Linked DNA regions of Homo sapiens: region 1 is linked to region 2. A link means that fine-mapping ties the variant in region 2 to the expression of a gene that starts in the linked region. Tissue or cell type: whole blood. Region 2 holds a variant in brackets; the other region holds the start of a gene. All regions are shown on one strand. Distances are between the middles of the regions.

Evidence for each region. PIP is the estimated chance that this variant, and not a neighbour inherited with it, causes the effect.
Region 1: it holds the start of PARP14, and the variant in region 2 is fine-mapped to the expression of PARP14 in whole blood (INTERVAL, PIP 0.97).

The regions. Positions count from the first base shown.
Region 1 is chr3:122,674,653-122,685,538 of GRCh38, reverse strand. It overlaps PARP14 (poly(ADP-ribose) polymerase family member 14), which reads right to left and starts at 4,700. Exons shown (of 17, transcript NM_017554.3): 1 at 4,469-4,700; 2 at 221-354. The coding sequence starts at 4,655. RefSeq lists enhancers at 2,287-2,476, 2,497-2,576, 3,962-4,051, 4,593-4,992, 4,417-5,189 and 1 more and a silencer at 4,303-4,352.
Region 2 is chr3:122,653,272-122,664,157 of GRCh38, reverse strand. It overlaps the pseudogene EIF4BP8. Among named protein-coding and RNA genes, the nearest start is that of PARP14, 22 kb to the left of the region's middle. The variant TC/C (reference allele first, on the strand shown) is at 4,564.

The sequences.
Region 1 (10,886 bases), 21 kb before region 2:
GACTCCGTCTCAAAAAAAAAAAAAAAAAGTACCCCCTCCTACTTTATCCCATACTACCCTACCCTACCACTGCCCTCACTCCCCCTACATTTGTAATCTGCTTTTCTCGCTGCAGTTTGCTTCATGCTTTTCTTTCCACTATATTTTCTTCATGGTGATTCCCATCTCACACACCTTGGGAGACCTAAATCCCTTTTATTCATGCCTAAAGTTTACTTGCTTTTGTTAGAAGTTCCTCTTCAAAGACATGATCGATTTCATCTGGGGTTGCAGGTAACTGGACAGTTAACTTGAATGTTCCTTTTCCTTGCCATACCAACTCATGATTTTTTCTCTCCAGAACCTTCTGCCGAACTGAAATGTCCAAAGGGGGGAAAAAAGACAAATGACAAGCAATCTTTATTTACAAAATTATTCTATGATTTCCGTGGGCTGCATTACCATCAATCAATGGCTTGGTCGGTTTCTCAAGAGAGGCTATATGTGAAGTAAAAGAGGAAAAGTTTAGCAAGCAAACATGGATTTGAATTTCTTCCTTAAACTGACTTTTTAATATTGAGCATGTTCCCTAATAAGCCATACTTATAAGGCCTCAGTTTTCTTGTCTATTTGTAAGGTTAATGGAGACTGTTTTGTATGAGTGCCACGTGTATTAAATTGAAGAAACATTATAAAGAACTTGGTACAGGACCTGACACTCAGGAGGTACTCAAAAGGTAGCAATATTTATTCTATATTGAAGTGAATTAAATTAAAGCATCCTTCAATGGGAGCCAGTGAAGATTGGGTACTGGGACATGCCATGATGAAAGTCACGTTTTAGGAAGGTGGCTAGGTGGCTGTAAGCAGGAGCCTAGTTAGAAACAGGTCTCACATCTGATAGTAAAAGGAGTATAAAAGAAGGGGGAGATTTTTGCAAAAAAAAAAATGAACAAATTAATAGATTAGCATATCAGGCAGCTTGGCTGTAGTGAAACAACTGAACAGTGGACATAGAGTCCAAAGATCTGGATTTGAATTCCAACTCTACCACAAATAGCTGAGTGAATACCTTAACTTCTCTCAACTCTCAGTTTCCTCACTTAAAGTGGTGTCCATGAATGCACACTGTAACATCCTCAAGAACTACGCAGATGTGAGTTACGATTATAAAAAGGAGCAGCCAGAGAGATATGAAGAAAATCAGCATATCTCAGTCCATGAAGAACGGGAAGAAGTGAGTTTCAAGGAGGAGGCATGATCAACATAGTCAGATAGTACAAAGAGGTCAGGGAAAAAAGGAGTTTTTGAGAGTGCCCTACAGGTCACAGGTGTAGCTCTAGCATGAATGTTGGGTCACTATGCTGTGTTCTGATATGGCTGGCCTGATGAGGCCAAGGATATAGATCAGAATCTTTCATGAATAGGAGCATGATAGCTTTCCCACCTCAACCCTCTGTGAAGAGGGTGGAGGAAGTGGGGTCTTAATTGGATGCCAACTCAGAAATAGGCCTCAGAAACAACCTGAGAAGGAACGCCAGCTTCTAATCTCACTCTTTATGAGGAGGGCAGATGTTTCCACACAAACTCCTGAAGGGCTTTACTAAACCAAGGTGGGGATTGAGGACTGGATAGGACCCCTGCAGCCTGACAACAAGCTAAATTTTGTAAGTCAAGTTATTTAGAGTCATGGACCTCTGTGTTACAGTCCTTTTCTTATTCCCTAGACTTTGATAAAGTCCTGTCTAGGCATCTAAATGTGCCAGTCTGTTCTCAGATTGTGGGCAATATTTATGGGCACAAGTATTTCAGGAGAACAGTTGGTAATAATATGGGTATATGATCTCCAAAAAGGAGAAAGTCAATCTGGGAGGAAAAAGCTGAAACTCTGATGTCCAACCTCCCTTACCCAAGTGGACAGTCTTCCACCTGCACCAACTTTAGATCATCAACATTTAATTTTATTTAAGGAGAAGATGGGTTCTTACCACAAGGAACCCGACAACAACCAGGAACCAAACTATGTTGGTAAAGTATGATAAAATAGACACATCTGAAACAGGGCTTAAAATGTTATGTCAATTTACACCAACTTTTCAGAAATCCAGTGAACTATATAAAAGTGAGATACAGCTTCCCATTTGTTTCTATTTGCTATACATGAATAAATACGGAGAAGTGCTGGTGGGCTCATTCTTGTTATCTGCCTATTACAGTTTATATGAATCAAATCAGGTTATGCTATGGGCCCGCACCTGTTGAGGCCACTTCCTGGCATGGAGGGTGGAGAGTGTCCTCTGCAGAAGAAGAATGCACTTCTGGGACTTCAAGCGTAGGTCATTCATTGTTAGCAAATTCCTGACCCTTGTTACTGAGAAAGTGGTTCCTCAAGTAGGAAACTGAAACTGACTAGGGATTTTCCACCCCCAAGAACTTAGACCATACTAGGTTTCGAGTTTGTTTTTGTTTGTTTGTTTCTTTTTGTTTGTTTGTTTTTGTTTTGTTTTAGATGGAGTCTTGCTCTGTTGCCAGGCTGGAGTGCAGTGGTGCGATCTCACCTCACTGCAACCTCTGCCTCCCTGGTTCAAGCAATTCCCCTGCCTCAGCCTCCTGAGTAGCTGGGACTATAGGCGCACACCACCACGCTCGGCTAATTTTTTTGTGTGTTTTAGTAGAGACAGGGTTTCACCATGTTGCTCAAGGATGGTCTCGATCTCCTCAACTCGTCATCCACCTGCCTCAGCCTCCCAAAGTGCTGGGATTAACAGGCGTGAGCCACCACGCCCGGCCGGTTTTGAGTTTTAATAAGTTTTGGGTCATCTGTGCTGGGGGGTAAGACAAGAGGGGCCACTGGAGCAGCCTGGGGGTGGAGGAAGAGGAGTAGTGGGCTGGGGCCGGTCAAGGATGGAAGCCCAGCAGGAAGACTGAAATCTTTTCTGCTTGGAGGGCTAGAATTGAGTTATTTTATCATCACAAAATTATACTTTGTGCTATTTGTATTTTCATGCTGTTTAAATTTGTATAATTATTTCTTTTTGTTCATTTGGGGTTAACATTAACTACGGAAATTCTGAAACTTGAACACATTAGGGTCACCTGGGCTGCCGGTTAAATACACGCTTCCCACCCACCCCACATTCACTGAACCTGAATCTCTAAAACAGAGCTGGGAAGGTGCCTGGTTAACCTGCTCTCCAGGTGATTCAGATGCAGGTCAGACCTACTTCTAAGGATAATGGAATCTAAAGGAGAAAGAAGCATCCTTAAGGGCCAGATCGATGGTGATGCTGACCTCTGAAGTCAAAGTGGGGAAAACCCTCAAGGAAAAGTGACACCCAAAAGAGAAATGACTAATATCACACAGTTGCCCTTCTGAGCACTCCTTGGTAAAATTAATCCTAGGAAAACATGGTATTTTGTTTTCATAAGGGCCATGAGCCAAGCATATCTCCTGTCCCCCTCCTTCCTTCCTTCTGTGCGCCATTCTTTTTCTGTTTCATTTTTCCTTTTTGGATCCCTGCTTGGGCACTCTAATTGCATGGCCTCAGCCTCAGCCTCCTTGCCTCTCCTCTGGCCCGAATGCTTCTCCAAATCTAGCGACATGAAAGCGGAATTAGGGGTTGACTAGATCCCGATAGGTCATCATCCATAAGATGCCAGTGGAAAAGGTGCCCATTCTGGGAGCTGCAGGTCACTGGCTTCCCATTGCAGACCAGGGAGGCCCTTGAGCCAGCAGATCACCTCTGGGCTCTTGGCCCACCAAGTAGTGGTGGGTCTGTAAGGAGGGAACTTTGCCGACTTTCCCTCCAAAGCTCAAATCTCCCAACCCACAATCACTTCAGAATATCATCCTTGCTCCCAATCTGAGGGCCACTAGAGACTCGGAGAAGAGGCCCCGGCAGGCCCTCGACAATGGGCACCTGTGGTCGATCGACAGCCCCTCCAATGTGGCCGCTGTGACGGCTCTACGTTGACATTCAGGCAGTGTGATTTTAGGTAGCGCCTCTGCCCCTCTCCCAAGTGACCCCGGGACCCCTGGGAATCTCCAAGAACCACAAGGAATCTCTGTGACTTGCCACGTTTCTTAATCAGTTTCCTTCCCCACACAAGAATAATAACAACAGGAAAAGACAGAAAAGGATGATAAGAGGATAGACTCACTTCCACAACAACAACAACAAACAATAACACCACCACAACAGGGAAAGACAGAAAACGATCGAGGGATAAAGAGTTACTTGCGCGGTTCCGCCGCCACCTCCGGGCCGCGCCATTAAGCGCCTGGAAGCGCAGGGCGCCGGGGAACCGCAGCGCCCCGGGTGCGCTCGGAATCCATTCTGCCGCCCCCGCCCCCGCCCCCGCCCCGGCCACCTCCGCTACAGCAGCCGCCGAAGTCGGGCGGGTCACCCTCCCGTGCGTGCCCTGCCGCCATTTCCCTGGAGGGAGGGCAGAGGTGCCCCCTCCTCACCCCACCCCTCGCGCCCCTCACCGTCCTCCGGGTAGAAGAACACCAGGAAGCGGGATGGGCTCCTGGGATCCTGGCGGACCTCACACTCGCCGCCTCCCGACCTCTTCGGGCTCTGGAAGTACATCTGCAACTTGGTGTTCAAGTTCTTCGGGGGGTCGGGGCCCCAGGAGCCCTCGACCAGCAGCGGGAAGGAGCCGGGCACAGCCATCCTCAGCTCCGCTCTCCGCCGGACTGCAGGGGCCGCGCCAACTCCGGGCCGCTAACTTTGACTCTTTCGCTTTCGTTTCCTGGAAAACTCCCAGGCCTTGGTTTCCTTTTGCCTTCAGCCTAACACAGCGGACCCAGGAATGGCAGAGTCATCCCCCGCCCACCTCCCCACCTTCGCATTCGGCCCACAGCCAAGGCCAAAGTAACCCTTTGGGGCTGGCCAGCGGCGCCCCGGGAAGGCGGCCTCAGTTCACCTGTGCTCCACGGGCTCCCACACCCCCTCCTAACTCCGGGCCCCCTACCTGCCGCTCGCCCCAACCGCAGATCAAGTCGGCAGCTTTGGGGCACCAGACCTTGCCCAAACGCAAAGATCATTTAATTTTTGCCGCAAGCCGACCCTTTACAAAAGAATAAAATGACTCACAAACTGTGGCCCCTTTAGAATGTTTGCTGCCTATTTGGGGACTTTTTCAGCAATCATTGTGATTATCAGAATTTTACGTTGCTTTCCCTGTTTTGCTTTCTGTTCCTTGATCTGTTAATACTACATGTCTAGAAATGTGGGGGAAACAATTACACTCACAGTTTTTTTTGTGGAATATTTACTAGGCGCCATGCACTCACTCACTGAACCCTCGCTGAGCTCACGGAGCTATGGTGAACACAGTGGGCAATAGGTGCTCTGGGAAAGAATATACTTGTGTTCCTGGAACAGATGAGGAGTGGCTCCTAGTCCAGCTGTGGCGGCTCAGGGAGGGTTTATAGGGCGGTGACATGTAACCTGATAACCCCAGGATATCAGGGGATAGCCTTGGAGGGTTAGGAAGTGGGGTTCCACGGTGTGATTCACATGTACAGGATCACTCCGGCTGCTGCGTGGTGGCTAGAGTGGAGGCAGAGAGATCAGCCAAGTGGCTACCATAGTGTCCTAAGTGAGAGACAAGGGTGGCTGAGACTGGGGTGCTGGCAGAGAAGAACTGAGAAAACGAGGATTCTCAATTAATAGTGAAAGCAGGACTTGCTGAAGAATGTGAGCCTTGAGAGAAGGAGAAGCTCAAGGATGACTCCATGGTCAGCCATGGATGGCCCGTGCAAGTGGCTGGATAATAGTGGCATCTGCAAGAGGGGAGGCCGAGTGATGGGAGAGAAGCTGGGGCTGTGTGTTTCCTTGACCCCAAATAAAGCAGTGTTGCAAGTCGAGGGGGGCGGGGGGATTATCATTCCAGTGCTACCGATACCTCAGGTCAGAGAAGTGTCTGCTGGACTGCTGAGGAGCGGCAAGCATAGTCTCCTGGTGAGGAGGGAGGAGAGGGAGATGGCAGCTACTGAAGACTGAAAGGGAGGGAAGGAAGTGGAAGCAGAGAGCGTAACACGCTCTTTGCAGAAATGTGACCGTGAAGGGGAAGAAGGAGCCAGGCAGTAGGTTGTGGGGTTACAGGATCGGGCTGAATTTCAGAATGAAGAGAACCAGAGATGGGCCAAATGGTTTACCTGGCTTTTATTTCGGCTCTGTAATAATCCTAAACAGTACACAGATATTTTCTCCTGCCTCCAGCTTGCTACCTGCAGATGGCGCTCATCATCTGATCCAAAACTGCTCTGGACCCCCGCATGCGGAAGACGGGAGGACAAGCGCCCTCAGCCAGACTTGGTGACTGTTTCTCCCCAGGGCCTTTACATCTCATCCCAAACCACAACTAAAATCAGCACTCCTCCTCTCCCACTCTCCCCTGAGTTTGGGGTTCCAGAACTCAGCAAAAAGTTTCCCTTTTTCCTCACATAATTATTGTATAAGAAATAAAGTCAGAGGCATTTCTGGATTACTTTCGAGGATTTATTTAATTATCGACAATGTGTCTTACCACCGAGGTCTGCTTATCATGCCTGGGTGGACTGGGAAGGAGCTATCAGAGGATCAGGATGGCAGGTCTTGAAAGCCAAGGAAAGAAAGTTCTAGAAGGGGCAAATTGTTGAACGGCATTAGCTCCTGCAGTACTTTGTTTTCTGCAAGTTATTTTTGCCTTGTTCACTTGAAGAATGCGTATCCTCTCACAATTCTCTGTTTCCTGTGGGTATCTGCCTTCTGATCCTTTCTTCCTGGGAAGCACGTGTCTTCTCAGGGCCTGGGGTGGGGGTGGCCTGCTGTAGAAGTGGCCGTGTTCCTTGATTCTCCTTCTACTTCACAGCTACAGCTCATCTTAATGTAACAGCCCATGTCTGCATTTTTGGGCTGAACTTCCCTTTCCCTACTTCATCTAAATTCCCCCTTTTGGTTTCTCTACAAACTGCCGTAGCCTAGCATCGTGCTCTTTTGAACTTCTCTACCAACTAGCATCAGCCTCCTCATTTCTACCATTGAGGTATAAAGGAGGGAAAGGGCTGCTTTCCCTTCTGTCCTGAATCAGTGAGTTGTAGGTACCTCATGCCCACCACTCCACCTCATTTTGCTTCTGAAACTCCTGACCTAGTCACCCCAAAATAAGACATGGCCATACATCAAGGGAAAAGTACTCCAAGAAGTTCTACCCTCAGAGGGAGCCCCCTGATGGACACATCACAGTCTTTGGCCTTACTCCCTATGCTCAGGTACCTTTCAAGAGCTTTTATCTTCAAACCTCCATAGGGACAGTCTCCATACCCCTCAACTGGCCAGGACAGTAATTACTACTGATGCATTTTCCCAAATAGAAGTAATTTCGTTTCACCAATACTATGGTTGAGTGGGAGGTGGAGGTGGCTTCTCCAGAAGAGTCCAGAGTAGACTTGATCTTTCCGTGTTTGTGTAAAGACCTTTCCTCATCATGCAATTAGGTAACCATTGAATTGAACACACATGTGTATGTCTCAAGACAAGCATTCATTTTCAGTATAATCTAGATCATATTTTTTTAAATAGAAACACACAATATTTTACTACCACACTATATCATGCATGACACCTACCAGTAATGGCTGTTAAATATTGAGCAACCAGATTTTTGAAACAAAGTTTCCATGTGTGTTATGTTTATTATAAATTTTACTGATATAATGGTTGGATAACACATAATTTACAAATAATAACAAAATATATAATACTCTATTGTAGTTTCTAAATAGCTGATTGATTCTCAAAGAATGTTTCAAAGATTTTTGCCACAATTATATCTATACTAATCATTCTGGATTTTGTTTCTTTGAATTATTGGGCAGGGAAGATACTTAAGTATGGAAGATTATTGCTCTAATTTGGGTGAAATAAAAGTTTATTAGTGCAAGACAAACATAACTCATTTAACAATAAAGTTTGTGTTGGATATATATATATATATATATATATTTTTTTTTTTTTTTTTTTTTTAAAGCCATAGGCAAACTATGGTTGCCATTGAGGAATGAGTGTAGTTTTGACATAAATGTAAGTTGACACTTTTGTTTACATTAACAAGTAAAATGAAAGTGAAGCAATGCAGACATGTCAGAACCCTTATTTGTCAATGACATAATTCCTTCTTTACTAAATTGGATAATAATTTTCAAATACTGGAAGAATATTTCCTCAATTTTTTGTGCTTTTTACAATGTAATGGCTATAGATGTGACCCACTTTTAAATAATCTGCCCTGTTAGCAAATTCTCCATCACTTTAAGTCAAGATAACCAACAAAGCAACGACTCAGGCCCTGATGTGTAGTGTTTTTCAATTCCATGATGTAAATATTCTCACAACAGCTGATGAAGTTCCCAGTGTGATTTCAGTGAATGCCGAGTTGGAAAGAGATGAACAGTGGCACACCATTACAAATATCACAGATATTTATTATCTAAAAGCTCCAAGTCCTAGATCCATCAAAGCCTGAGGCAGGACGTTTTTATTGGATTATGGACTGCCTGGAAATGTAGCTACAGAGTCAATGTGGTAATCAAATTTAAAGAAAAACAACAAAAACTGTCAGAATCCAACTTGAAAATTGAAAGAACTCATTGAGTTCTGGGCTCACTTCCAGAACTGTCTGTGTCACCCACACACATCTCCATTAAATTCTTGAATAATAAAGACAGAAAGATATTTCCAGAAGTTTTACTCAGACATCTAATCTCACCTTTCTTCTTGGTTGCTACACTGACCTCAGATCATGAAACTCAAGGAATACTTTGTTTATGTTACTATTATACTAGAAGACAAAAGTATTTCCTTTGAAGCCTAAAAAAATATATAGCAAGGGAAGCCTAAAAAAATATATAGCAAAGGAAAAATATATAATGAAGACTGTGGAGAAATAAATAGTATAAGCCTAATTCTTCTATTCAGCCTTGTGGACAGAGTTAGGAAATAGCTCTAATTTCAATCAGTCACCACAGGTTCTTTCTCTCCTACTATTTCATATTTGTATAATTCTTATGATCTTCTTCTCATATGATTCTCTTGTATGAACCTTATCTCAAAGTATGAACTTTGTTTCCCAAGAACATTAATATATTTACTTATTTTCTCAATCCTTCATTACACACAACATAGTTTGGAATTGGAACTCTGTTATAAGCTGAATGCTTGTATCCCCCCAAATTCATATGTTAAATCCTAACTCCTAATGTGATGGGCATTAGGAATTGAGGCCTTTGGGAAGTGATTAGGTCATAAGGGTGGTGCCCTCATAAGTCAGATTAGTGCCCTTATAAAAGAGAACCCAGAGGGCTCCTCTCTGCCTTCTGCCATAGGAAGACATGGCAAGAATATGGCCATCTGTGAATCAGCAGTTTGGGCCCTCTGTAGACATGAAATCTGCTGGCACCTTGATCTTAGACTTCCCAGACTCCAGAACTGTGAGAAATACATCTCTATTGTTTATTAGCTAGCCAGTCTATGGTACTTTGTTATAGCAAAACTGAATAGACTAAGACAAACACCAATACCCAATACCATTATCAACAACAAATCTACTAAATAAAGATTTCCTTGTAGTTCTTTTTATCCACTGAATAGAAACTATTGAGGGTGTATAGTAAGAGTACTAGGCTCAAAAGTTACTTGGAATACTTTTTTCCTGAGTATGGTTTTGTTATAAGACACATAATCAGGGTCATCATTTCTGTTTGGATTCAATTTTAGGGCTTTTCCTCATCCTTGTTGACTTTCTTTTTGGAAATGATAAAATTTTAACACTCAAAAATCAAAACCATATAAAGATATATATTCAGAGAAGTCCCCTAATCCTCTCACTCCATCTCCACTATCTCTGTAAGTAACCAGGTAAGCATATCATCAGTTTCTGGAATATTCTTCCACCGTTTTCTTTTTGCAAAAATATGTGTTTTGTGTATGACCTTTTCTTCTTTTCATGCAATAGGTAACATGCTATAAATAAGTAATTTATATCTGTATCTATACACACAGTTATACTTTGAATTTTACATTTAATATATGCTGTAAGTTATTCCATATCAGATCACAGAGATCTTCCTCATTACTTTTTACAGCTGCCCAGTTCACTGAAGTATAGATATATAGAGTTTATTTAACTCATCTCCTAGGCATGGCATTTAGGGCATCTCTAATATTTTGCAATTACAAATAATGTCACATTGAGTAACCTTGCACATGTTTGTTTGGTTATTTGTTTGTTTTGTTGGGAGTATATTTTCAATGTAAATCCCTAGATGTGGGAATGACAGGTTAAAGAGTAAATGCACATACACTTTCCTTATATATTGCAAATTTCTTTCCATAGGTGTTTCAGTTATCTGTGGTTAGATAACAAACCATCTCAAAATGTAATGGCTTAAAACACAACCATTTTATATTTATCACACTCTATGAGTTGGCTGGGCAGGGATCAGCCAAGATGGTTCCTCTCTGCTATTGGAGGTGCCAGTTAAGCTTGCTCATACAGCTCCTATTTGGTCTAGAAGATCTAAGATGGCCTCACTCATACCTGGCCCCTCAGCTACGATGGTTAGAATACAGAGCCTTCCTTTGATGTGATCTCTCGGGCAGGATAGCCTAGACTTTATGTGGCCCTGGCTTCACGGTGAGCAAAAATTTAAATTGCAAGGCTTCTTAATGCATGGGCTTTGAGGTCACATAACATTGCCTCCCCCATTTGATTGGTAAAAGCAAGTCACAGGGCTAGTTCATATTCATTCACATGGAAGGAGACTGATACGGTTTGGATTTGTGTCCCTGCCCAAATCTCATGTCGAATTGTAATCTCCAGTATTGGAGGAAGGGCCTAGTGGGAGGTGATTGGATCAT
Region 2 (10,886 bases):
TCTACAATCAATGTTTTTTTTTTCTTAAAAAAAAGCTTTCAATCTCTCTTTAAAAGCCTACTTCTTAGCTACTAGCCAGTCCACCCTAATTATTTAAATTCATTTGGTACACACTTTTGTTCACTGGGCAAATTATATTCATTATGCCCACTGCTGCAGCACGCATAAACCAACACCCCTGCATGGCTGAGCAGGGCCTAATCTAGGACTGACAGGAGAAGTGCTTGCAAACCAAGATCAAGGTGTCATTTCTCTGCTAATACTGTCTACCAAGCTGATCCCTACAAAAATGCACATAAAAGCAGGCAAGTTTAGCTACTGTGTTGCAAGAGAAACCAGGACCTTGTTAAATAGTTCTCTCCATTACCATTTATTCTCTCAAGGGAGACTTAAAAAAAAGAAAAGAAAAAGAAAAAACAACCCATTGGTCTGGCCACCTCATAAATCCAACAACCATTGGTGTGTCATTTCAGTGGAGAAGGAAACTTGGGGGGAAAAAACCATCGAGGTTGTGAGAAAGGCTCCCAATTTAACTGTCCCTGTCCCTATTTATCCACCTTTATTCACCACCCAAGACCATCCATTACCCTAGAGCACCCTGATCTATAAAAGGGGTCAAACCATTAGGAGTAGGCAACGAGTGAGAACCAAAAGACATCAAGAAACCGATTTGCTTGAGAAAAGCAGCGATTCTGCCTTTCACTCCTCTCCATGGCTGAGAGAAAATGCCCAAGAGATCATCTATGTGACTTAGAGACTGCTTTTTGGGAGGTTAAGAGTAGCATGAAGAGCTTAAGATGACGACAAGAGTCTAAATTTTTAAAGTTTCAAGGTTTCAACAGAATGTGGATATATTCGAACTTTCAAAAAGGACAGTGTTTAAAAAGGGTAAAACCAGGACACACAAACATTGGGAATTATCATGACCCCCAAGTGCTTCTGGCTCCGGGAAATAACCATTCTTGTGTTTGCTGGAGGTCGCACAATTTTCCCCTATTACCTGATACAAAATGACTCATTACCTCCCAAAAGCTTCTTTTCAAACCACAATTTTCCCATTTATCTTGGTCCAATGCAGTCCTATTCTTTATGGCCTATAGACTCACCCCGAACTACCCCCTTGGAGGGTAAAAAAAAAAAAAAAAAAGAATGAAAGAATTCCCTCTAGGCTGGCCCCTAAAACTCAGAATTAAATAACAGGAGGGGCTGGGAGCCTCCTGAAGACTAAAACAACTTGAGGCTAAATCTACCTTTCCAAGAGTGAAAAATTTATTTAGATGTTTGAGAATTCATATATGCCACAATAGGGTAAAAAATAAAAAGTAGAAATCTCACACTTTTCCTTATACTTCCTTCCCCTACTGTCCAACCAGATTCCAGACCTTATCTCACTGTCATTACCATTTCCACTAAATGGAGGCTCCTAGGTATTAATCACTCTGGCAACTGCATGGTGACAAAACGCACCACAACTTTTCCACTAAAAAGCTGTAGTCTCTTTCTCTCTGGCTATATTGGCGATTCTCCAGTTACTTCAATACTCTAAAGGCTGCAGCAGCATGCAAAAGAATTTCACTTAAAAAAAAAAAAAAGAAAGGTAAGAAAAGTCTCCAGGAGATGGTGAGTTTTATTTTGTCTTGTCTGGATAGAAGTTTGATTTGCTCTCGAACGTTCCAGGGTGGAGAGAAACTAGGAGAAAGCACAGGATGTCTAGGTCCACTCGGCATAATCTTCTCCCTTGTTTTCATCTTCACCAGAAACGGAGACAGCAGCATACTTGCTTGCAGAACTGAACTTGGAAGCTGGATTTTCCTCAGGTTTCTTTGGCTCAGGTGCAGATCTGGAGTCTTGATCCTTTTTGCCATCTTTCCTATCTGACTCCTTTCAGTGGTCTTTGTTCCCTCCATCTCCTGGACCACAGCTAGAGTTCCCAGTTTGACCTTTTGGGACTTTCATCCCATCCACTTTATTTTCATCTTTCTTTGCTGGTCCTTCCTCAGATGATCGAGCTGGAGCTACTTTTCCCCCACCACTTGTAGGGGATTGCTGCTCTGTGTCTGAGCTCTGAGATGGAGCAGGAGCGTTAGAACTTCACTTCACCGAAGCATTCTCCTTTGGTGGAGGGGCTGGCATTACCTTTGGGTCTGGTAGGATCAGGTTTGAGACGTTTAGAAGTTGGAGAGTGACAATCTTCCTCCTTATTGAGTGTTTCATTTTCTAGAGACTTCTCACTCTCTCTCCTTCGTGCATTTCTGCTGGGTATGGCGGAGGTCTCAGTCTGCGATGACTCACTTCCTGTCCGCGACCGTTCCATTCTTGAGTTTCTTCACTTTGCCAGCTTGGGTGTCTCTCCCGAGGCCGTCGTTCTAGTTATGGCTCATCCAGCTGACGCTGCAACTTCTCTTGTTCTGTAGCATTTCTTCTACTTCTCTTTCTCTACCAGCTGTGTCAACCGGCTTTGCCCCTCCAAAGATAGAAGCAGCTCGACTGGACTGGGAGGTACTAGCAGAGGAATCATCTTCCTTGGGAGTACTCCAAAGCTTTAGATTCAGTTTGGGTCTTTGCGGGGACCTCTATCATCACACCTATAATCATCCCAAGTGTAATCATCTCTGGAGCTCCACGACCGATCATCCCGTCTGTTGTATCGGTCTTCAGAGCGGTCCCTGCCTCCTCTGTAGTCATTATCCCTGCGGTACCCACTACCAAATGCTCTTCTGCCATTGCCTATCTGGGAATCATAGCCTCTATCATAGTGTCTGCTGCCTGGGTCATCATAGCAATCCTGGCCGCCATATCGATCCATATCCCAGCGTGGGCCATCCTGATACCCCTCCCGATACCCACCGCGATACCGGTCTGAATCATAACGATCTTGATACTTGTCTCCAAAGCAATCATCACCTCTTCTAGGCGAGTAGTCATCCAAGCTGTCTGTGACAGGACGAGCCCTCCAGTCTGTATTTGTTTTGTCAAAATCCCGATTTCTCTCATGGCCAAAAGAACGATCGTCCCTGTCTTTATCCTGTGCTCGGTCAGCAACGTCCACTCGAATTCTCCTGTTACCTAGAGATTCTTTATTGAGACTCAGGGCACTGAACAGGGAATCCAGGTCGTCAAATTCAGCATAACCAAAACCTTTCAACCTCTCTGGATTGCTGGGTTCACGTGGTAAACACACTGCACTGATATTTAATCCTCTAAATAATTCCTTAATTGACTCTTCTGTCACGTCATAGGGTAGGTTCCCTAGAAAAGCAGTGTAGGGTGGCGATTTGGGAAGACCGCTCCGGTCGATAATGGGTTCCCTAGCAGCCCGTGGAGCAGTGGGAAGGATGGAACGGTCAACTGGGGGCGCCCTATACACATCGTCATCGTTACTGTGCCAAGCTGAAACATCTCCTTCAGGTCATCCGTTTCATCAACCCAGCTGACTGGTTTGGATACATAGCTACTTCCTCCACCAGTCCGCCATCCTCAGCCAGAAAGTCTGTTAGGGAGATAGTCTTCCCCTTCTTATTCTTCTTTTTCGCTGAGGCAGCCATGTTGGGAGAGGGAAAGAGAACGCAAAGGGAAATCTAATGTCTTAACAACTTGACAGAATAATTCACTGCAAGTCTGTTGATCTTAACCCAGCTAGAAACATTTCCTAGGTGTGTCCTTTTCTCACTTTGCTTATGTATATTCATGGTTCTGTTATAGTCATAATGGGTGTGTATGTTCAATTTGGTATTCTTCCTTTTATGTAACATGATTTATCCAAATATTTTCTATTTCCTATAGCACCTTCATATTCATCATTTTTAGTATATCACTAGAGTATATCATTTTGATATGCCATAGTTAGCTTCTTTCTGTATATCTGTATTGTTGGGCTCTTAGCTTTATTCCAATGTTTGCCATCATAAAATAAACATTATATATACATACACTTTTTATTAAACATCATTTCCTCAGGATAAATTCTATTACTTGGTCAGGGGTTAGGCATATTTATGATTCTTTCAATAAAGTACCATTTTGCCCTTCAGGAAGACTGAATCAGTTTACGCTGCTTTCATTAATGCATGAGCATATCTGCTTCCCGAAGCCTTGCAGGCTTTGGCTTTTACAACTTTTTAAAAGTTTTTCTAAATTTTTTTAAGGCACAAAATGAAACTTCACCGTAGGTTTAATTTGCAGTTATTTTACCAACAAGGTTGACTGAATAGTTTTAAAATTATGATTTACTGACAGTGTTTCTTGTTGTATGAACTGTTTTTTAATCATTTGTTTAATAGTTGGTAATTTTACCTATTTATATGCACTCTTTATACTTTTTAGTTATTGAACTTTGTCTTCATTTGCAAACTTTTTCTCCAGTCTTCTGAATTTTTAAATTTCAGCTTTATTGGTATTCATTCCACCAAAGATAAAGCTATCTAAGTCATGAACCTGTCCGTCTTTTTTTCATTTATATTCCATCGACAGTCAAAAAGTGATTTCCCCTAGTGCTAGTCTTTTACATATGTGTATTTGTTTTTTTAAATGTATTTAACTCCCAATCTACCTGGATTTTTTTTT[TC/C]AGAGTGTAGTGCAAAGTGTGGGTCTTTTAAATATTCTCATTATTGATATTCCTGTACACCAAGTGTTTCAAATTTGTTACCAGTACATTAAATGTCTGCTAGGACAAATTCTTCTCATCACTCTTTTTGAATCTGAAATGCTCTTTGATGTACTTGCTCATTTATTTTCTCCACATACAATAAAAATTATATTAATTTTATAAAGCATCTTGCTTCTAATTGGTGACTTGTATCTAATTCTAATTTAGAATTAATTAAATCTAACCCTGAATCCTCTATGCACTGTGGTGAGTTGAGGCTGAGTTGTGTCCTTCGTAAGGCTCAGCCTGCATTGATTTTACTCCTGCTTCTTCAGGATTTTCAGCAGAAATCCTAGTGTATTCTCCATGCTCTTCCACCTGGTGGGCCAAGAATTCTAATCTTTGTCTTTACAAGACTGCCGAAGGCTCTGTTCTGCTTCAGAAGTTTTCTGCTTCTCTTTTTAGACTCCAGCCTCATGCACCCCTGTAATTTAACAGATGTTCTCTGGAGACCTTCCAAATCTCCTCCCATATCCCTCCTGGCCTCTGCCTCCCAGCAGTGGCCTTCCTTGGGTGCAAGGCCTGGGGTTATCAGTCTCCTCCCCAAGCACAGAATCAGCAGATGACCCCTAGGCACAGTGGCTGCAGAACTCAGCTCTCCCTAGCTGTGATTCTCCCTCTCTGGAGTTTTGGCTCCTTCAGTTATTGCTAACTCAGAAGCCCTTTTCTGCCTTAAAATAGATGCCTCCTCTATTTTGTTCTAATTTTCTGCTTATTTTAGGTGAGAACACATTCTGTCACTAGCTAATTCATCCCACTTGGAAACATAGGTTTATTTCACCTTAAACATTTTTCTTCTACCTTCTTATATTTTAAAACCAAAAAATCTTATTTCTGTTTGACATATTCCTCAGAAAAGCCTATCCTGACTTCTCAGACTCAGTTAAGCAGTACATTTTATATCACTCTCTACCTCTTTTTAAATATTTATTGCAATTTTAATTAATTCTGTAATTTATTTTTTAATTATTTTATTTTATTTTATTTTATTTATTTTATTTTGTTTTATTTTATTTTATTTTATTTTATTTGAGACAGAGTCTTGTTCTGTCACCCAGGCTGGAGTGCAATGGTGTGATCTTGGCTCATTGCAACCTCCGCCTCCCAGGTTCAAGCGATTCTCCTCCCTCAGCCTCCTGAGTAGCTGAGATTACAGACACCATTACGCCCGGGAATTTTTTGTATTTTTCATAGAGATGGGGTTTCACCATGTTGACCAGGCTGGTCTCGAATTCCTGACCTCAAGTGATCCACCCGCCTTGCCTCCCAAAGTGCTGGGATTACAGGCATAAGCCACTGCGAACTGTAATTTATTTATTTATTTTTAGAGACGGTGTCTCACTCTGTTGCCCAGGCTGGAGTAGAGTGGTGCAATCACGGCTCACTGCAGCCTTGCTCAACCTCCTGAGCTCAAGCAATCCTCCCACCTCAGCCTCCTAAGTAGCTGGGACTGCAGGCATGCACCACCACGCTCAGGTAATTTTTGTATTTTTTGTAGAGACAGTGTTCTGCCATGTTGCCCAGGCTGGTCTCAAACTCCTGGGCTCAAGTGATCTACCTGCCCACTCCTCCCAAAATGCTGGGATTACAGGTGTGAACCACTATGCCCAGCCTGTAATTTATTTATATAATCTCAACACGCCCTGTTGGTTCTGTTTCTCTAGAGAACCCTGACCAATACAATTATTTAGTATCAGGCCAAGTTAAAGGTTTTTTTTTTGTTTTGTTTTTATTTTTTATTATACTTTAAGTTCTAGGGTACATGGGCACAGTGTGCAGGTTTGATACATAGGTATACACGTACCATGTTGGTTTGCTGAACCCATCAATTCCTCATTTACATTAGGTATTTCTCCTAATGCTATCTCTCCCCCAGCCTCCCACCACCTGACAGGCCCCGGTGTGTGATGTTCCCCACCCTGTGTCCAAGTGTTCTCATTGTTCAATTCCCACCTATGAGTGAGAACATGCGGTGCTTGATTTTCTGTCCTTGTGATAGTTTGCTCAGAATGATGGTTTCCAGCTTCATCCACATCCCTGCCAAGGACATGAACTCATCCTTTTTTATGGCTGCATAGTACTCCATGGTGTATATGTGCCACATTTTCTTAATCCAGTCTATCATTGATGGACATTTGGGTTGGTTCCAAGTCTTTGCTATTGTGAATAGTGCCACAATAAACATACGTGTGCATGATTTACAATCCTTTGGGTATATACCCAGTAATGGGATCGCTGGGTCAAATGGTATTTCTAGTTCTAGACCCTTGAGGAATCACCACACTGTCTTCCACAATGGTTGAATTAGTTTACACTCCCACCAACAGTGTAAAAGCGTTCCTATTTCTCCACATCCTCTCCAGCATCTGTTGTTTACTGCCTTCTTAATGATCGCCATTCTAACTGGTGTGAGATGGTATCTCATTGTGGTTTTGATTTGGATTTCTCTGATGACCAGTGATGATGAGCATTTTTTCATTTGTCTGTTGGCTGCATTAATGTCTTCTTTTGAGAAGTGTCTGTTCATATCCTTTGCCCACTTTTTGATGGGGTTGTTTTTTTCTTGTAAATTTGTTTGAGTTCTTTGTAGATTCTGGATATTAGCCCTTTGTCAGATAGGTAGATTGCAAAAATTTTTTCCCATTCTGTAGGTTGCCTATTCACTCTGATGGTAGTTTCTTTTGCTGTGCAGAAGCCCTTTCATTTAATTAGATACCATTTATCTATTTTGGCTTTTGTTGCCATTGCTTTTGGTGTTTTAGTCATGAAGTCCTTGCCCATGCCTATGTCCTGAATGGTATTGCCTAGGTTTTCTTCTAGGGTTTTTATGATTTTAGGTCTAACATTTAAGTCTTTAAACAATTTTGAATTAATTTTTGTATAAGGTGTAAGGAAGGGATGCAGTTTCATCTTTCTGCATATGGCTAGCCAGTTTTCCCAGCACCATTTATTATACAGGGAATCCTTTCTCCATTTCTTGTTTTTGTCAGGTTTGTCAAAGATCAGATGGTTGTAGACGTGTGGTGTTATTTCTGAGGCCTCTGTTCTGTTCCATCTGTCTATATCTCTGTTTCGGTACCAGTACCATGCTGTTTTGGTTACTGTAGACTTGTATAGTTTGAAGTCAGGTAGTGTGATGCCTCCAGCTTTGTTCTTTTTGCTTAGGATTGTCTTGGCAATGCAGGCTTTTTTTTGGGTCCATATGAACTTTAAAGTAGTTTTTTCCAATTCTGTGAGGAAAGTCATTGGTAGCTTAATGGGGATGGCATTGAATCTATAAATTACGATATTGATTCTTCCTATCCATGAGCATGGAATATTCGTCCATTTGTATGTGTCCTCTTTTATTTCATTGAGCAGTTGTTTGTAGTTCTCCTTGAAGAGGTCCTTTACATTCCTTGTAAGTTGGATTCCAAGGTATTTTATTCTCTTTGTAGCAATTGTGAATGGGAGTTCACTCATGATTTGGCTCTTTGTTTGTCTGTTATTGGTGTATAGGAATGCTTGTGATTTTTGCACATTGATTTTGTATCCTGAGACTTTGCTGAAGTTGCTTATCAGCTTAAGGAGATTTTGGGCTGAGACAGTGGGGTTTTCTAAATATACAATCATGTCATCTGCAAACAGGGACAATTTGACTTCCTCTTTTCCTAACTGAATACCCTTTATTTCTTTATCTTGCCTGATTGCCCTGGCCAGAACTTCCAACACTATGTTGAATAGGAGTGGTGAGAGAGGGCATCCTTGTCTTGTGCCGGTTTTCAAAGGGAATGCTTCCAGTTTTTGCCCATTCAGTATGATATTGGCTGTGGCTTTGTCATAAATAGCTCTTATTATTTTGAGATACGTTCCATCAATACCTAGTTTATTGAGAGGTTTTAGCATGAAGGGCTGTTGAATTTTGTCAAAGGCCTTTTCTGCATCTATTGAGATTATCATGTGGTTTTGTCATTGGTTCTGTTTATGTGATGGATCATGTTTATTGATTTGTGTATGTTGAACCAGCTTCAAATCCCAGGGATGAAGCCAACTTTATCATGGTGGATAAGTTTTTGATGTGCTGCTGGATTCAGTTTGCCAGTATTTTATTGCGGATTTCCGCATAGATGTTCATCATGGATATTGGCCTAAAATTCTCTTTTTTTGTTGTGTCTCTGCCAGGCTTTGGTATCAGGATGATGCTGGCCTCATAAAATGAATTAGGGAGGATTCCCTCTTTTTCTATTGATGGGAATAGTTTCAGAAGAAATGGTACCAGCTCCTCTTTGTACCTCTGGTAGAATTCGGCTGTGAATCCATCTGGTCCTGGACTTTTTTTGATTGGTAGGCTATTAATTATTGTCTTAATTCCAGAGCCTGTTACTGGTCTATTCAGAGATTCAACTTCTTCCTGGTTTAGTCTTGGGAGGGTGTATGTGTCCAGGAATTTATCCATTTCTTCTAGATTTTCTAGTTTATTTGTGTAGAGGTGTTTTGTTTGTTTGTTTGTTTGTTTGTTTTTGAGACACAGTCTCTCTGTGTCTCGCAGGCTGGAGTGCAGCGGCACGATCTTGGCTGACTGCAACCTCCACCTCCCAGGTTCAAGCGATTCTCCTGCCTCAGCCTCCCGAGTAGCTGGGACTACAGGGGCATGCCACCATGCCCCAGCTAATTTTTTTGTATTTTTAATAGAGATGGGGTTTCACTGTGTTAACCAGGATGGTCTCAATCTCCTGACCTCGTGATCCACCTACCTCAGCCTCCCAAAGTGCTGGGATTACAGGCGTGAGCCACCACGCCCGGCCTGTGTAGAGGTGTTTATAATATTCTCTGATGGTAGTTTGTATTTCTGTGGGATCAGTGGTGATAATCCCCTTTATCATTTTTTTTGGTGTCTATTTGATTCTTCTCTCTTTTCTTCTTTATTAGTCTTGCTAGTGGTCTATCAACTTTGTTGATCATTTCAAAAAACCAGCTCCTGGATTCATTGATTTTTTTGAAGGTTTTTTTGTCTCTCTATCTCTTTCAGTTCTGCTCTGATCTTAGCTATTTCTTGCCATCTGCTAGCTTTTGAATTTGTTTGCTCTTGCTTCTCTAGTTCTTTTAATTGTGATGTTAGGGTGTCAATTTTAGATCTTTCCTGCTTTCTCTTGTGGGCATTTAGTGCTATAAATTTCCCTCTACACATGCTTTAAATGTGTCCCAGAGATTCTGGTACGTTGTGTGTTTGTTCTCATTGGTTTCAAAGAACATCTTTATTTCTGCCTTTATTTCGTTATTTACCCAGTAGTCACTCAGGAGCAGATTGTTCAGTTTCCATGTAGTTGTGTGGTTTTGAGTGAGTTTCTTGATTCTTCTAATTTGATTGCACTGTGGTCTGAGAGACAGCTTGTTGTGATTTATTTTTATTTTTTCTTTTTCTTTTTTTTTTTGAGGTGGAGTCTCGCTCTGTCACCCAGGCTGGAGTGCAGTGGCGAGATCTCAGCTCACTGCAAGATCCACCTCCTGGGTTCACACCATTCTCCTGCCTCAGCCTCCCGAGTAGCTGGGACTACAGGCACCTGCCACCACGCCCGGCTAATTTTTTGTATTTTTACTAGAGACGGGGTTTCACTGTGTTAGCCAGAGTGGTCTCAATCTCCTGACCTCGTGATCCACCTGCCTCGGCCTCCCAAAGTGCTGGGATTACAGGCGTGAGCCACCGCGCCTGGCCTGTGATTTCTATTATTTTACATTTGCTGAGGAGTGCTTTACTTCCAATTATGTGGTCAATTTTGGAGTAAGTGTGATGTGGTGCTGAGAAGAATGTATATTCTGTTGATTTGGGATGGAGAGTTCTGTAGATGTCTGTTAGGTCTCCTTGGTGCAGAGCTGAGTTCAAATCCTGGATATCCTTGCTAACCTTCTGTCTCGTTGATCTGTCTAATATTGACAGTGAGGTGTTAAATTCTCCCATTATTATTGTGTGGAAATCTTAAGTCTCTTTGTAGGTCTCCAAGGACTTGCTTTATGAATCTGGGTGCTCCTGTATTGGGTTCATATATATTTAGGATAGTTAGCTCTTCTTGTTGAATTGATCCCTTTACCATTGTGTAATGGCCTTCTTTGTCTCTTTTGATCTTTGTTGGTTTAAAGTCCGCTTTCTCAAAAACTAGGATTGCAACCCCTGCCTTTTTTTCCTTTTCCTTTGCTTGGTAAATCTTCCTCCATCCCTTTATTTTGAGCCTATGTGTGTCTCTGCACGTGAGATGGGTTTCCTGAA